2 separate regions of the Homo sapiens genome follow, and region 2 is linked to region 1. The links come from fine-mapping of genetic effects on gene expression. A gene starts in region 1. The other region holds a variant in brackets. All regions are shown on one strand. Distances are from middle to middle. Region 1 holds the start of SLAMF6 (SLAM family member 6). Region 2 overlaps SLAMF6 (SLAM family member 6).

The links.
Region 2: its variant is fine-mapped to the expression of SLAMF6 in whole blood (INTERVAL, PIP 0.98).

What each region holds. Positions count from the first base shown.
Region 1 is chr1:160,521,913-160,524,838 of GRCh38, forward strand. SLAMF6 (SLAM family member 6) reads right to left here and starts at 1,343. Exons shown (of 8, transcript NM_001184714.2): 1 at 1,232-1,343. The coding sequence starts at 1,280. RefSeq lists an enhancer at 1,128-1,177.
Region 2 is chr1:160,485,828-160,488,753 of GRCh38, forward strand. SLAMF6 (SLAM family member 6) reads right to left here. Exons shown (of 8, transcript NM_001184714.2): 7 at 1,277-1,348; 8 at 1-927. The coding sequence ends at 880. Among named protein-coding and RNA genes, the nearest start is that of SLAMF6, 36 kb to the right of the region's middle. The variant C/T (reference allele first, on the strand shown) is at 1,510.

The DNA of each region.
Region 1 (2,926 bases):
TTTATCTTTTTTTACAGTTTGTCTCCTGCTAAAATGTTAACTCCATGAGGGCAGGAATTTTTGCTTGCTTTGTTCATGATGTATTCATGCAAACTAGAAGAGTGCCAAGCATTCAGTAGGTGCTCAATGAATATTTATTCCTTTCTCATTCCAATTACCAATTACTCTACTTAACTCCATATTGATGGGATCTCTTGCTTCAGTCTCTTCTTTCTCTTATGCTGCTGCCACACTTGTTGAACTGTTATTTTTTCTCATAACTATTACAAGAGCTTGTCGCATGCTGGCTAATGAAATTTGGGCAAATTATTTAAATTAAGTTCACCTCAGTTCTTCATTTTAAAATGGAGATATTAATAGTATAAATTCATAGAATTCTCATGAGACTCATAACGTGTGTACAGCACCTGGCACAATACTTGAAATACAATAAGTGCTCAGTGAATGCTTCCTACTTTTATCTGCTACCCTGGGCTAGCTCTGGACTAGATTTCCATTGGTCTCCTGGACTATCTCTGCCTGAATGCTACACTTTGTCTCCCGTGGACCACTTGTAGTTCCCCAAATGTGATATGAATCTTCATCTTCTCCATATAATGGACAGCAGGAAACAAGAAGCCAGCTGGATCAGTTCATTCTTTTCTCACTGCCATATATAATGCATTGCTGGACTAGCTAGCCCTAATTTGCACTAAAGGAGGGGAGAGATGGAAACCTTTTTTTTTGCAATGAGCAAAAGGTGAGAGGGTTATTTTTGGTGTGTTTGGTTGGGCCCAGAAAATTTGGCTCAACTGAATAATAGGTTTTTAATAATTTAGATGAGGATAGTGAGGTTCAGGAAGGATAAGTAACCTCCCTGAGGTTCACAGTACGATAGTAGATACATTGGTATGAGGGCCCATTTTCTTGGTCTTGGTACTCTTTATAACACAAGATGCTGGTCATAAACCACAAACAGTCTTGTCTTCAAAAGCTTATTTCCTCTGCCCCAGCAAATAACTTTCTTACATGCAGACACAATTGAAATTGTTCACCGACAACCATCTCAGGCTTATCGCATCCAAAGTTGAGAGGAGGTAGTAGTATATCAGGTAACACTGCCAGCGTCCCCTTTCCCGCCCCAATCCCTTGGCAGAGAGCCAGACAACTGTATACAGACGATTTAGGTTGAGCAAGCTGCACAAAACCAGGGAGTCACTCAGTGACTACACCGATCTGGATTGACATTTACCTGGGCCAAAGCAGAAGACAAACAGGAGCGATTGGAACAGCCACAACATGCTTTCCGCGGTGAAGACTGGTGCTTGAGACCTTGAGGCAGTCAATGTTTTTGCCCTTCTGTCATAAACTGAAAATACTTCTGAGACTTCCCCTTCCTCTTAGAGGCGTGGTGACAACTTCTTCCCCTGCACTAAAAATCCTAATTTGTAACTGTGTTAATTTTTTGTTTACTTTTTTCTGAGCTAAGTGCACAAATTTTTTTTTTTTTTGGAAAAGAAGATAAAGTCCTTTATTGCATCTTTCATAAACTTATATGTAAAAGTCTGTAAGGAATTTCCTAAAATCTACTAGAACAAATAAATGAGTTCAGCAAGGTGAAAAGATACAAAATCAAAATATAAAATTCAATTGCAATTGTATATACTAGCTATGAGTAATCCAAAAATAAAATTCAAAAAACAATTCCACTCTAATTACATTAGAAAAAAATATTTAAGTATAAAGCTAAGAAAAAGCCAAAAGAAAACTGATTTTTTAAAATTATACTTTAAGTTCTAGGGTACATGTGCACAATGTGCAGGTTTGTTACATATGTATACATATGCCATGTTGGTGTGCTGCACCTATTAACTTGTCATCTACATTAGATATTTCTCCTAATGCTATCCCTCCCCTTGCCCCCCACCCCGTGACATACCCCAGTGTATGATGTTCCCCTACCTGTGTCCATGTGTTCTCATTGTTCAGTTCCCACCTATGAGTGAGAACATGCGTTGTTTGGCTTTCTGTTCTTGTGTTAGTTTGCTGAGAATGATGGTTTCCAGCTTCATCCATGTCCCTGCAAAGGACATGAACTCATCCTTTTTTATGGCTGCATGGTATTCCATGGTATATATATGCCACATTTTCTTTATCCAGTGTATCATTGATGGGCATTTGGGTTGGTTCCAAGTCTTTGCTATTGTGAACAGTGCTGCAATAAACATAAGTGTGCATGTGTCTTTATAGCAGCATGATTTATAATCCTTTGGGTATATAACCAGTAATGGGATTGCTGGGTCAAATGGTATTTCTAGTTCTAGATCCTTGAGGAATCGCCACACTGTATTCCACAATGGTTGAACTAGTTTACACTCCCACCAACAGTGTGAAAACATTCCCATTTCTCTACATCCTCTCCAGCATCTGTTGTTTCCTGATTTTTTAATGATTGCCATTCTAACTGGCATGAGATGGTATCTCATTGTAGTTTTGATTTGCATTTCTCTAATGACCAGTGATGATGAGCTTTTTTCATATGTTTCTTGGCCGCATAAATGTCTTCTTTTGAGAAGTGTCTTCATATCCTTTGCCCACTTTTTGTTGGGGTTTTTTTTTTTTTCTTGTAAATTTGTTTGAGTTCTTTGTAGATTCTGGATATTAGCCTTTTGTCAAATGGATAGACTGCAAAAATTTTCTCCCATTCTGTAGGTTCCCTGTTCACTCTGATGATAGTTTCTTTTGCTGTGCAGAAGCTCTTTAGTTTAATTAGGTCCCATTTGTCAATTTTGGCTTTTGTTGCCATTGATTTTGATGTTTTAGTATTGAAGTCTTTGCCCATGCCTTTGTCCTGAATGGTATTGCCTAGGTTTTCTTCTGGGGTTTTTGTGGTTTTAGGTCTAACATTTAAGTCTTTAATCCATCTTGAGTTAATTTTTGTGTAAGG
Region 2 (2,926 bases), 36 kb before region 1:
TGGAAGGTCCAAGAAATATTTCTGAGGTAGAGTCCAAAGGGCCTGGTGACAAAGACACTGGAGTCAGGGATGACTTAGATTCTTGGCTCAAACAATGGAGCTGATGTAATACCATCCTCTTCCTTTTTCAGTCTGGGAGACTAAGGCTCCAAAAGGTTAGGCAGTATGTCCCAGGAGATGTGTCTAATAAACATTGTACAAGTTGAGCATCCCAAATCCAAAAATCCAATATCCAAAATGCTCCAAAATCTGAGATTTTGAGCACTGCATCGACATCAATGAAACTCAAGGGAAATGCTTATTGGAGCATTTTGAATTTTGGATTTTTGGATTTGGATACTCAACCGCTAAATATAATGCAAATATTCCAAAATCTGAAAAAAAATTGAAATCTGAAACATTTCTAATCCCAAGCATTTCAGACAAGGGATGCTCAACTTGTATCAGGATGGGCCCATCCAACTCCAGAGACTACACATGTAACCAACACACTGCATTATTTCTCAATAAGTCAATCCTGCTGCTTTCTAAAAGGAGAGAAGTGGTTGTCTTCTGGATCATAAACTCTCTGTCAACCATAATTCCATTTGCTTAGTTATCAAAGAGAGAGTCAATGTGCTGGTGTGTTATCTTTAGCATGTTTTGGCCTGAAGTGGATTGGAAAATATTATTTGAACCACATGCTGGAAATGATGTTATCCTTAGGTGTTTGACTCAGGTAGGCAGGTTTAAGTCCGAAGGACTGGAGGTGATCATCCTATCCTAGATATTCAAATTCTGTTGCCAGGAACAACAGGAACCAAGCTTCCTGTTCTTTGTTCTGTCTCATGGGATCAGAAGACGTGTCATTCCCGAATTCCTCTGAGGCCTTTCAGCAACTTACACGACATTGTCAAGGGCAGTTGCCCTGGAAAAAGTGGGTTTACTCTGTGGGAAAAAGAGGAAGATGAGGTAGGTTAATTGGAACTGGAACCTCAGCCCACCCCTCATAACTACAGAGAGAGGACTGGAGACTACAGAGAGGCAGATAATAGAGATATTGATAGCATAGGGCAGGATTAAATTTAAAAACATGTAATTGAAAACTCAGTTATGCATGGTGATCCTAATACAAAATAACTTCTTGATTATGTTTTGGTGATGTCCTGAGACTTTCCGCATGCTGCTGCTGTTTGTGCATCTGTAAAATGACCCTTTTATTTTTACTTTATTTGAAAAATCATAGGTCTGTGGAGAGAGGTAAGAATATAAAAACATGGAGCAATCGTGGGCTTACCTCTTTGGAATGATTAATTGTGGAGTAAATTGTGATAGTATCATTTTCTCTAGGTGTCCAGATTTCTGTTTCCTGTAAAAAGAATCATACCAATTTGGCTTACACAGAGACAAAGAGATTAATGCATAGATATATTCTTAGGAAAGACTGTGTGACAAAAAAGAGAATATGTCAAAGTTCTTCCAGAGGAAGGCTGGGGAATGTTCAGTGGAAGACCAAGCACGACTAGCTAT[C/T]AAACTTGTGAGGATTTAGTGGCATTTCCTGAGCCCCAAACAGAACAGCAACACTGCAGCAAACCAATGGGCTCAAGAGCCAGAGAAAGGCAGCCTTGCTGTATGAAGGGAAGGAAGTATTCTTGTCCTTTGTCCAGCTCTACTTTCCTTCCTCCATTTTTAAGAAAAAACTTATATACCAGATAGTTTATTATATGTTTTGTCTCAAATTTTTACTAGCTATGACTGAAACTACCCATTTTGCCTGCTCCATCTTTTGCTATAATTCTAACTGCCTTGTCATCATGTCATTGGGGTCTTCTCAAGCATGGGGAATTGGTAGAATAGGAACACTTGGCCTTAAGAATGGCTCTGCCTGGAATGCACATTACAGAAATAATAGCAGAAGTCCCTACGGCCCTCAAAGAACCTACTCAAAGATTTTGACACTTTAAATTAATGAAGAAGTATTTAGAGAATTATCAAGATCTCTACTGGGCACAGTGGCTCATGCCTGTAAACCCAACACTTTGGGAGGACGAGGCAGGCGGATCACTTGAGCGCAGAAGTTTGAGACCAGCCTGGGCAACATGGTGAAACCCCGTCTCTACAAAAAGTAGAAAAATTATCCTGATGTGATGGTGCTCGCCTGTAGTCGCAGCTACTTGGGAGGCCAAGGTAAAAGGATCACCTGAGCATGAGGAGGTTGAGGCTGCAGTGAGCTGTGATTGTGCTACTGCACTCAGCCCTTGGTGACAGAGTGACACTCTGTCTCAAAAAAAAAAAAAAACCAAAAAACAAAAAACAAACCAACAAAAAACAAAAAAACCTCAAACTCTCCAAAGCACATTTTTTTTTTCTTTTTGCTAAAGAGAAAGCTAACCAATTTGTGGGAAATTAGTTTTTTGATTTGTCAGAGTGTGAGTTGACTTGTTTTCAGGAGGAATTTGCAAAGGCAAAAGAAATGTCTGAGCAAGTGAGAGTACCCCTTCTTGCTTCCTGTCATCAAGGATCATACTTTGCAAATATAGGTGAAGGGAATCCAAGATTTCTAGCTAGATCATTGCTTACATCATTTTGAAAATGCTAAGCTTTCCTGGCTTATTTTTCAGAAAACTGGCCTCTCAAAATGTATGGTATTATTTAGAGATGTGCCACCTGCAGGTCCTTTATTTAGGGGTGGTGGGGAGTTGCTGATACATGACAGATGAGTTGCTGATGCTTGACCAGCCATCCTGTTATGCTGCTAGATGAGAGGGGAGGGGTGAACCATTGCTCATGGTTTAGTGGCCTCTACTGTGCCCCCTTCCCCTCTTGAGAGACTACTTCTGAACTCCCCTAAGACCCCTACATGCAGAGTGAGAAGTCAGCCACCTGCTATGGAACTACGTCCATAGGAAACTTTCAAACTTAGTGGAACTCTGACCCATTCAGCAAG